Linked DNA regions of Homo sapiens: region 2 is linked to region 1. Evidence: fine-mapped expression QTL. A gene starts in region 1. The other region holds a variant in brackets. All regions are shown on one strand. Distances are from middle to middle. Region 1 holds the start of ADAM23 (ADAM metallopeptidase domain 23). Region 2 overlaps ADAM23 (ADAM metallopeptidase domain 23).

Region 1 (5,383 bases):
ACCTAACTTGTAAAAAATAGTAAAAATTAAACATTCAGGTCACCTGAATTTTATATTAGCTGCTTTACAACATAGGAAAATCACCCAAAAGCCTTAAATTTCTAGCTCCCCATTTGTAAAATGGGGATAAATACTGTTACCACTCACCTATATTTTAGAAAACTAATAAAAAACAATGATGTAAACTGCAGATACTTTCTTAAATTCTAGATGTTTAGACAGTTAATTGCTAACTGTTGTTCTCACCTGAACAAGTACAGATCAAAATGAAACATTTAACATACAGACTCTATTTTCTGCTCCCGATAAACAACAGAAGAACCGATAATCCATTGTTTAAATCTGCTCGGGGTTCAAAATAATATTAATTCAAGTAAAGAATAGTAACACAGGGAAAAAGATCCCTTAAACTCTTTGGATATTAAACATTTGTCTTCTACTGATACCTTGGTAAATATCAGTTCCACTTTCTGAACTAACCTGAAAGTAAAGCAACTGCTCATAATCAATGCAGAGTAGGTACTGAAGAATTATGCCAATCAAAATTGGTCTTCATATTATGCAAATAATTTGTGTCTAGTCACCATAATCTTTTTAAATGTCAAATTGTTTACCTATTGAAAATACAACAGAAAATTTTTTTTTCCTCCTACTGATCAATTAAAGAAACAGACTGTTTAAACACTCAATTTCTAAGTGGAAAGACTGATGGAGACACTGCAGCCAAATAGCTTCTTGAAGCAATCTTGCATGTGCAGATTGAAAGCAGTTTTTATATCATGGGAGACAGTTTTATATCAAGGCAGAATACTGCACCCTTACATAAAGCCTCACAGAAACAAGTTAGAATCATAAACACATTCACTTAACTACTGTTCAGTGCCCAATGTACCTGAAAGATACATGGATATCATTTCAGGTATCAGAAAATTCTAGTTCCAGTTTAGTCAGAGAAGAGAAACAACAGTCTTATCCCAGTAGATCCCAAGTTAATTCCTTCCAGTTTCTCCCCTATCATAATATTAATTGCTTTCTTAATAAAATGCTGCAGTAAAATTTGTGAACTCAGATTCTGGCAGAAAATCAAATCAAAGGAAAACTCTTCATGATAGTTACTTTTGCATAGCCAGCCTCCTGCCTACCTTATTATGTTTTTGCTGGTGTCTTGCCTTTGTGTCAAGAACGTGATAAGGGCTTTCCGAGTCTTGGTTGATGTAATATATGAGTCTTGAAGGCAGTGTGATTTCTTTCTGCATTGCATTGCTGTAACTGATATTACTGCTGCTATTCTGTTGCAATGTATTGTCTTCATCTGCCAGGACTCCCAAATTTTTTTCTGCAGTTTCATTCCAATGCGGAGCTGGTGGAGGTAGGGGGGTGGGGGAGCAGAAAATACAAACATACACAAACACACACATATTTACCCCATAAATACATAAGCACTAAAATGCATTTTTCCTTTAATTTCAAACACAAAGTTTTCTATTTATAAGCAGTTAAGAAGTAGAGCTAGAGTAAAGCAAGTTATTTCAACAATAAAATGGCCTGGAGAAGTTAATAAATAGCCAATAAGGCTTATACAACTGTGCACTATTTATTTTGATTTATGTCTTATATATACATTTCTAGTCAGACTCAAATCTATACTTCTAAGTGTTGGGGGGGGGGTAGAATGAACTTGAGGGAAGAAGAGTCATTAAATGAACATGTTCAGGGGTCCTGCCCCCGATCTCCACCCCTTCTCTGAGTCCACAGAAGCACAACTCTACTCTGCCTAGTGGCATCCCATCCAAGAGCTAAGAACGCTCCTAAGATAACTTGAGTACTGAATTTATGGATACCGAATATTAATCGACTCTTTTAACAAAATGGACAATTCCCTTCTCTTTTAACTTTAAGATGAGCAAACATACTTTGCCATGTAGGGATACAGATGCTGGCAGCTTCCCAATTTCTTTTTATTTTCCTGACAAAGCCAGCTTTCTGCTTTCAGTGACTTCCAATCATCAATATATAGAAGATGGTATTATATTAATTGTTCATTATAATGACAAGCACTTTGAGAAATCAGAACCAAAGGTCGTGCATGAAGTATGTCTTCAGCACCTTAATTCTTTGGTCCCCGAAGTGTGCCTCCCCCACCTTAATTCCAACCGCACTGAATGCGCCGGATACGAAATTTGAGGAAACAGCCCATTACCACTATTATCACTACATCCTCCCCGCATTCACATTAAGGTTCCACCACGCAAGTAGCAACTTGCTCCCTCGCTGTATTTCCCATCCACTGGTTGCCCCTCCGCAAGTTGCACAGAGATCGCTGAGGGACCCAGGATCCACTAAACACCTCCCAGTGGAACCAACAAGAATTGGAATGGGTTTTTCGCGAATGCAACAGAAATGGACTTCCAAAAGTGAACTGGGATGAATGGGGGTTTGGGAACGAGAAGGGTGGAAAGACAGGCAGGGAGGGAAGGAAAGGCCGAGCCGGGGACAAGCCCGGAGCACACGGACCCGCGCGCCCTTCGCTTTCCTCTGCAGGGCCCCGCGGGAAAGCCAACGCAAAGGGCACGGGGCCATACCCACCGCTGGGCGCAGCAGCCCCCCAGGCGCGGGGCCGGGACGAGGCGGCGAGCGGAGGCAGCAGGAGAAGGACGAGAAGCAGGCGGCAGGGCGGCGTGCGGGCCGGGGCGCTGGCAGGCACCGAGCCGGCGGGGCCGCGTTGGGGGCCGCAGGAAGCGCCGGCAAGGCTGCAGCCCGCCAGGGGCGGCTGCCGCGAGCTGCTGCCGGGCGGCTTCATGGCTCATAGCTCCCGGGCGCCGCTCCGTGTGGCCGGCGAGAGCGCCGGGCTAGCTGCGGGGCGGCCGCGGGCGGAGCCGGTCACGCCGGCTCGGCGCGCATGGTGCCGCGGCGGGCAGGGGGCTCCGGGCTCGGGGCACGGGGCGCGGGGCTCGGGGCTGGGCGGCGCCCCCTTTCCCGGCTCGCCTAGCCTCGCAGCCACTCCCGGGGCGGGACGCAGAGGAGTCCAGGGGTCCTCGCCGCTCCGCCAACTTGGAGCCTCCCCAGCGGCTACTCCCTCCCCCGGCGGGCGCGGCCGCTTCAGCGACTGCGGGGGCTGCCGCCGGGCCTGAGGATGCTGAGGCGGCGCGCGGGAGCGAGCGGCGCGGGGACGCGCGGGAGCGAGCGGCGCGGGGACGCGCGGAGCGGGCGTGCGCCCCGCCCCCCGAGAGCGCGCCCGAGCGGGGCTTCGGGTGCTGATGCTGTTGCTGGATGCTGTGCTGCTGCTGTTGCCTGGCCCGGAACGCACTGCGCATGCTTTGTTGGGGGGCGGGGAAGGGGGTAAAGCAGCAGAGTGATGCAGCAGCCCAAGCAGCATCGGAGGTGACGGGTGGTACCTCAAAAGATGGGGGCGGTGGAGGGGGAGCCGGCAGTCACGGATAAGCCAGAAGAAAGAGAGTACGGGGGTTTCCAGGCCAGAGACAGGGATGATCGGGAGAAAACAACCAGCCGAAGTCCACCTGCCTTTTCCACCACCCCAGACTTCACATACCCTCTCCTATTCCAACCTCTTCCTGCTCTGGATAAACTAAGGCCACGCATCTCCTTCTTAATCCCTTATATATTTGCTTCCTGCATGTAAATATAAAGGATTGCAGCCGGGGAGGTAAAAATAGCGCGGCTCCTCATTCAGATTGCCAGCAGCGGGTGGGACTGCGGCTGAGAAGAGCGTTTGCGCCGCAGGCTGGCGCGGAGTGGCAGGAATCCCCCGCGCAGGGGCGCTCTGCCCCGGCCTGTGTCCTCCCTGCCGGTGCCTGGGGTCTTTGAGGAAAGCACAAGAAGCCGGACGGTGTTTGCTCAAAAGTTCAGAAAGTATGACTGGGCATATTCGGGAAGGACTTCGACATTCTGGCGGGGAAGCAATACAGAGATTAGAAACCAAGTGTGTGGCAGCTATCTTGGGAAATCCGTTGTTTGTCAACCACGGGGATGGGCACACATTTAGGAGGACACATTTCTATTTTTGAGATCCAGTCCTGACTTCTGCAGAGGAAAGGGGAAGTTTTCTCTCGTTGCTGTAAAAAATGTAAATCCCTGACTTCGGTGGGTTCGCAGCCACTAAATCTGATGGCTTCAGATAAGAGTCTGTGGCATATTTCTGCCCCCAAACTCTCATAATGCAAGCATTCATTTATTCACCCTCCCAATGACAATCTGAGTGATAACAATGTTGTCTTACTCCGACATCCACGGGGTGAGGGCTGGGGTGGAGAATTCCATGATTAAAAGAAAGAATGTGGGTATAAAAGTGCCATGGCCATGACAGAACTCAGTGTTAGCCATCATCTTCTCCACTCACACTTAACAAAGAGAAAAGAAGAAGACATATACGCGCGCGCACACACACATTACAAAACTGTTAGGTAAATACTGAGATAACTTCCTTTCTATGTTGAGCTAGGATATTATTATCACATATTTATTCCTGTAAATTTGTAATTGTTGCTACCTCCCCCATGTGAGGGCAACAACAGTTTTCCCTTCTGCACACCATTGTGTCCCTAGGACCTCACACAGTGTCTGAGGCACAGAGAAATCGCTTGGAAAATATGTACTAAATGAATAAAGAAATGGGTGATACACACAAGCAGAAGTCACACTTGGGGCAGGCTAGTGAACACTCTAGCCCCACCGGAGTGCCCACTGCAGGTCAATGTTCTTAGGGTTGTCTCCCTCAAGTCAAGTATTCTCTGGCTAGGTTTTCCAAATTTATATTTGACACAATATGCATCCTGAAAAAGGGCCTGAGAGAAAGCAAGCCAGAAAGGAGATGTACAAGCAATGAGAAGGGAGAGGGAAATGAAAGGTGCAAAGCACCCAGATGCAAGTTACTTGAAAGGCATCTCTTGCAATTCAGTGACAACCTCTTAAAGTCTGTTCTGATAAATAAACCTATCAGCCAACCTGGACTGACCAAACCCACCCACCAGTTACAACACATCATTTCATGCACTTGGGGTATGGAATGAGGATTCAATATAGTTTCTTTTTTTCTTTTTTTTTTTTTTTTTTTGAGATGGTGTCTTGCTGTGTCACCCAGGCTGGAATGCAGTAGTGCGATCTCAGCTCACTGCAACCTCTGCCTCCCAGGTTCAAGCGATTCTCCTGCCTCAGCCTCCCAAGTAGCTGGGATTAGCTGGGATTACAGGCACGTGCCACTACACCCGGCTAATTTTTGTAGTTTTAGTAGAGACGGGGTTTCACCATGTTGGCCAGGCTGTTCTCAAACTCCTGACCTCAGGTGATCCACCCACCTCAGCTTCCCAAAGTGCTGGGATTACAGGCGTGATCCACCGCACCTGGCCTCAATATAGTTTCTAATAAG
Region 2 (5,383 bases), 81 kb before region 1:
TTTAATTATCCTATTTCCCTCTTTTTAAGGGTCTCTTCTTCTCATGAACATACCTGTTTCTAGTATCTCTGGCATTTTAGAATCTTAAAGAAGAAAAACAGCTACTTTTCAGGAGGTCTATGGCAAATACTGAGAGAAATACACCACCATATGCCCCTCCTCACCATGCCAGTCCACTCTTCTACTTCCTGTAAATAGCACACATCCCCATTTACTCCATTCTTTCCTTCTGTCTGACCACAGCCAGCCTCCCTTGAAACTAATTATTCCACTCATCACAGTATCCCTAGCACCTGGCATAATGCCTAATGCATAGTAGGCCCTTAATCAATATCTGCTGAGTGAGCAAACATCTACCAACACCTGCTATAGGGGCTTGGAAACAGGGTGAAAAATGCAACTTTCAAATTGAAACTAAGCAAAATCAGCACAAATGTGCAAGATTGATCACCTCACTCAAAAATATTATTTTGTAATCTCCTTGAGAGTGAATTACATCAACTGAAATGTAACCTAATTAATTATAAAAGTCTTGAAATAATAGTGAAATGTAATTTTTGATGATGGACAAGAAACACTAAAAAGGGAGAAGGGAATAGTTGATTGTGCAGTGGTGTCTCCAGCCCCACCCAGCCAGGAAGGAACCGGTAATCTATGTCTCCACATGCCTGAAGATGAGTTGTCCTTTCCTCCACCTCTGCTTTCTGTAGTCCTAATACAATTTCCTGTTGGAAACAGAATGTTCTGAAATGCTAATACTCATCTATTTAGCAATTGCGGACCCAAATATAAACTGGCATTTTACTTTGTTGATCAGCCAATTGGATGTTTGGTTCTGAAGATGCTAACAACTTGTGGGCAAACTCTGAACATCCTAAATTCTAAAATAAACATCTTTTTTCAATCACTGAAGCTACAGAAAAGCTGTATTCTCTGGCTACTCCCATGCTTCTCATGCAGGTTATCTGTTGAAAGAGGAGTGACCTTTATAAGTAAATGAATAAACGTAGGATGGAAGTTCAAGCCAGTGAAAGAAAGTGGAAGAACTAGAACAAGGAAACTCTTGAACCCACTCACTCTGCCCTTCATGGTGAATCTGCACCACTAAAGTGGTGAAAACTCTAGGAACTCTAGAATGAGACTAAATATGATTTTACTCAAAATATGAAGAACATGTAAGAGCAGGAGAATATAAAACTATTGAAACATGACAAATGAGCCAAGAATCAGGTCAATGAAGGGAACTGTGGCAGAAATAATGCTGTGTGTCCACCAAATGCTATTTCATTTTCCCCTTCCTGGCATCCTGATAAGACCACATTTTGCAGGTTCTGCTGCAGTTAGGTTAGGGCCAAGACAATGGATCATGGCTAATGAGACATGAAGGAAGTGATGTCTGCCCCTCTAGTGTGACCACTAAAATCCCTGCAGGATTATCTAAGCCCTCTCTTCCATGGCAACCCTGGAAGCCACATGCTCCAGATGGCATAACAGAAATATGAATGCAGCCTAGACCCTTTCATCATGATTTGGAGAAGAACTGTCTAAAAGAGCTACTCAACTTGCACTATATCGCAGTGTGGGGAAGAGATAACATTTTACAGTGCTGAAGTCTCAGATTTCATGTTTGTCACTGAAACATTGTCTAAACTGTCCTAATTTCAGGATTTATCACAAATATCTTTTAGAAATCTATGTTCAAAGAATTTCACAATCATCAGCAACTATACAAGCAGAGCTGCTATTATATTTAGGAATTGGAAATTCACAAAAAGAGATTTACCTCAGGAAAGTTTTATATGTATGTGTATAGACGTGTGTCTGTGTGTGTCTGTGTGTGTGTGTGTGTGTGTGTGTGTGTGTGTGTGTGTATTTGTTGGAATCCTTGAATATGAGATTCATGTTTCTAATGTAAGTAGACACATAAACAGCCATGTGGTCAAAACTCCCAAAAGTTTATATCTTCCATTACAAGGAAGTTCCATATGGAGAAGCCAAGGATTCTAATAATTGGAAAAGTTAGGTACCAAGATTCCCTAGTATCTAGGAAAGCTATTAACCAAGAAGAGTAGATCCAGTTTTTTTGGAAAATAACTTGAACCCCTTACTTTAAACAAAGAACCAGCCAGACGCGGTGGCTCATGCCTATAATCTCAGCATTTTGGGAGACTGAGGCAGGCGGATCACAGGGTCAGGAGTTTGAGACCAGCCTGGCCAACATGCTGAAACCCCATCTGTACTAAAAATACAAAAATTAGCCAGGTGTGGTGGTGAGCGTCTGTAATCCCAGCTACTCAGGAGGCTGAGGCAGGAGAATTGCTTGAACCTGTGAGGCAGAGGTTGCAGTGAGCCGAGATCACACCACTGCATTCCAGCCTGAGCGACAGAGCAAGACTCTGTCTCAGAATAAAACAAAACAAACAAACAAACAAACAAAAATATGCTTCTCTTTGGAGTAATTCTGGTCAGAAAAGTTTAAGGGCAGGCTGATCAAAGAAAACAATTGTTCAGAACAAGACGACGTGGCTAACTGGGCCTTGGGCTATGAGGAAGGCTACTAGAAAAGATATACATTGGACCACAAAGGAAATCATTTTTTCTACATGACTTAAAATCATTTACTTCATTGTAAAAAGTGGTTGAACTACCAGTCTCTG[GA/A]AGTCCTTTCTAGTTTTAAAATCTGTATTCTCTGAAATTTTGTATTAAGCACTCAGTTTATTTCTAACTAGGAAATTGAGTGAGTTGCTGAGAACAAGCTTGTCTGAAGGAACCTAGAGGCCCACACAGCATTTCTTCACCAGCAGAACTAGGTAAAAAAAAGTCTAGATGAATAGTAGCAAGCACCAAGGCCTAACAACTGGATGGCCATATAATTTATCATCCAAACTAGGGCATTTGTGGAAATGAAAAGAGGCATATTAATAATTGTGCCAGGACAACAGACATACATAAACCAGGAAGGGCTATCCTGGGAAAACTGGGGCATATGGTCACCCTACCTAAAGGCCAAATTTAAGGTATACACATCGAGTTCTACATGGAAGGTCAGGTTGGTCTACAAGGTGGAAAATACTCAAAAGCTGAGATTCTAGTAAGCAAACAGTCTGTGAGTATGTCCTCTCCTCCAGTTGCTTTTGGGTTCTGTCATCATACTTCACATGGCCACTGATACAGTTTGGCTGTGTCCTCACCCAAATCTCATCTTGAATTGTAGCTCCCATAATTCCCACGTGTTGTGGGAGGGACCCAGTGGGAGATCACTGATTCATGGGAGGCAGTTTCCCTGATACTGTTCTCATGGTAGTGAGTAAGTCTCACGAGATCTGATGTTTTATAAGGGGAAACCCCTTTCACTTGACTCGCATTCTCTCTTGTCTGCCACCATGTAAGACATACCCTTCACCTTCCACCATGATTGTGGGGCCTCCCTAGCCAGGTGGAACTGTGAGTCCATTAAACCTCTTTTTCTTTATAAATTACCCAGTCTTGGGAATGTCTTTATTAGCAGAGTGAAAATGGACTAATACAGCCACTGTTTTAGGAAAGCCTTGAGTAGGTGCCTTAGGCTCTCTCAGTGCATAACATCAGTAGGTGGATCTGGGCAAGAGGAGTCAGCAGTGTAAGTTGTGGAAGTCAGGAAGCTATGAGATCACATTCACTGCAAGACACTGAACTTGTCAGGTGGTGACTAGCCATGCACCTTGCCATACATCTTTGTTCCTAAGTAAACAGTAGCACAAATACCCTAATTCAATTCTCAGTAGTAAAACATGTAAGTTACTTCCATATGTGTTCAAATTGGGACTGGAACAGAAGTTAAACAAACAGTAGAAAAATTAAATGATATCTAGAAAAGGAGTACCACAAATGCCCATATTTCTCATGCAAAGTCAGTCATCTGATTATCTGCTGCTTGAAAGTACTTAAGTTCTCAGTACTGGGAGCCCTAATCACACCTAAATGAGCGCTGACATTCATCCAAGAAGTCTCCTACCACCCCTTCCTTCCAGGTACACATTTCATTCATTTAATGACAACCAATGCTGTCACTGCGGAGACTCTCAACTTCATGGAGCCTCGAGCGTAGTGACATTGTTATGCCCAAGGCTCCATGAAGCCACAGTGAAGCATCGTGCCCGCTCCCTCTTTCCATTAGAAGCTTCTCTGTTTTGTCCTTTTATACACATAAGATATTTTAAATTCACTAGATAATTACTGTAAGTGGTAATGCAGACACAAAATTTAAACTCAATACATTCATATAAACATAAGCTTGTATCCTACAATTATGCTTGCTCTTATATTTCTTTTCTTTTTGTAACAGAAGACTTTAAAAGTATAACAATTTTTCAACCATTACTTTTCTAAAGTTTTAAAAAAAAAATAGACTCATACCACCTAAAATAGTTTTCATACCAAAAGTTGTTTCAGCTAAAAAATATACACTCCTTTGAGTGTAAACAATACAGTAAGAATTTTAAGCTACGTTAAAAGATCGAGGACATGGAGAGGCTGGGATTTAAGCATGTAGCAATGATATATTAAGTGGGTGAAAATAATTATAGGTTGCATAGAGGCTTTGCGTTAAGTCAGACAAAGATGGCATGCCCGGCAAGGGCTGGTAAGTGTGGGCACATTTCATAGGAACAGAACTGCAGGCAGAGAATGTTCCTAGCATGAATAGGTTATAGAGGTTTTTCTTTGGGGGTAACAAGAGAAATTTAATGATCTCCTAAACCATATGAGAGATTGCAGTGGAAATGTAAATGTGTAGGTACTCCTGCATCTCAGGTAATGGTCCCATTAGCCATAATAAAGTTTAGAAAACCCTAGTATAATGAGGACAGGAAACATAGGCAGGCCTGCAAGCTAATTGTAGAGTGGAGAAACAAAGAGTTAGGAGACTTGAGGTGATATAAAAGCTGAGAACCCTCACTCAGCTGGCTTGATCAGCCTAAAAGCCAGTGAGAGTTCCCTTCTGAGGAGGGTGGTATCAGAAGAAAAATCTTTAAATAAAAGATGAAAGATGTTTCGTTTCTTCCCCTTAACTTAAAGCTCGACCATATGAAGTGGATAACACATTTCTAGTTGTGGCTACCAGTGTCTCTCCAAGTTTCCAGTAATTTTGAGATTCCTTTATGACAGAATCATGGTTACTTTCACAATCTAGTTTTACCCCCGTATGTCATAAAACCAAAAAAAAAAAAATTAAACACAAGGAAAACTGGATCCAAATAAAAAAGGCCTATCTTCTGCACATAGTTACACATCACTGAAATGCTATGATGAACAAATTTCAAAGCTAATAATGAATGTAGTTGGTGACTATTGCTAATCCAGCTTCTTTTCTGATACATCCAATATTTATTAACATAACTATAAA

The links.
Region 2: its variant is fine-mapped to the expression of ADAM23 in whole blood (TOPMed, PIP 0.91).

The regions. Positions count from the first base shown.
Region 1 is chr2:206,441,284-206,446,666 of GRCh38, reverse strand. ADAM23 (ADAM metallopeptidase domain 23) reads right to left here and starts at 3,135. Exons shown (of 26, transcript NM_003812.4): 1 at 2,587-3,135; 2 at 1,143-1,360. The coding sequence starts at 2,800. RefSeq lists a silencer at 2,561-2,690.
Region 2 is chr2:206,522,630-206,528,012 of GRCh38, reverse strand. The region is part of intron 3 of ADAM23 (ADAM metallopeptidase domain 23); the gene reads right to left. Among named protein-coding and RNA genes, the nearest start is that of ADAM23, 82 kb to the right of the region's middle. The variant GA/A (reference allele first, on the strand shown) is at 2,658.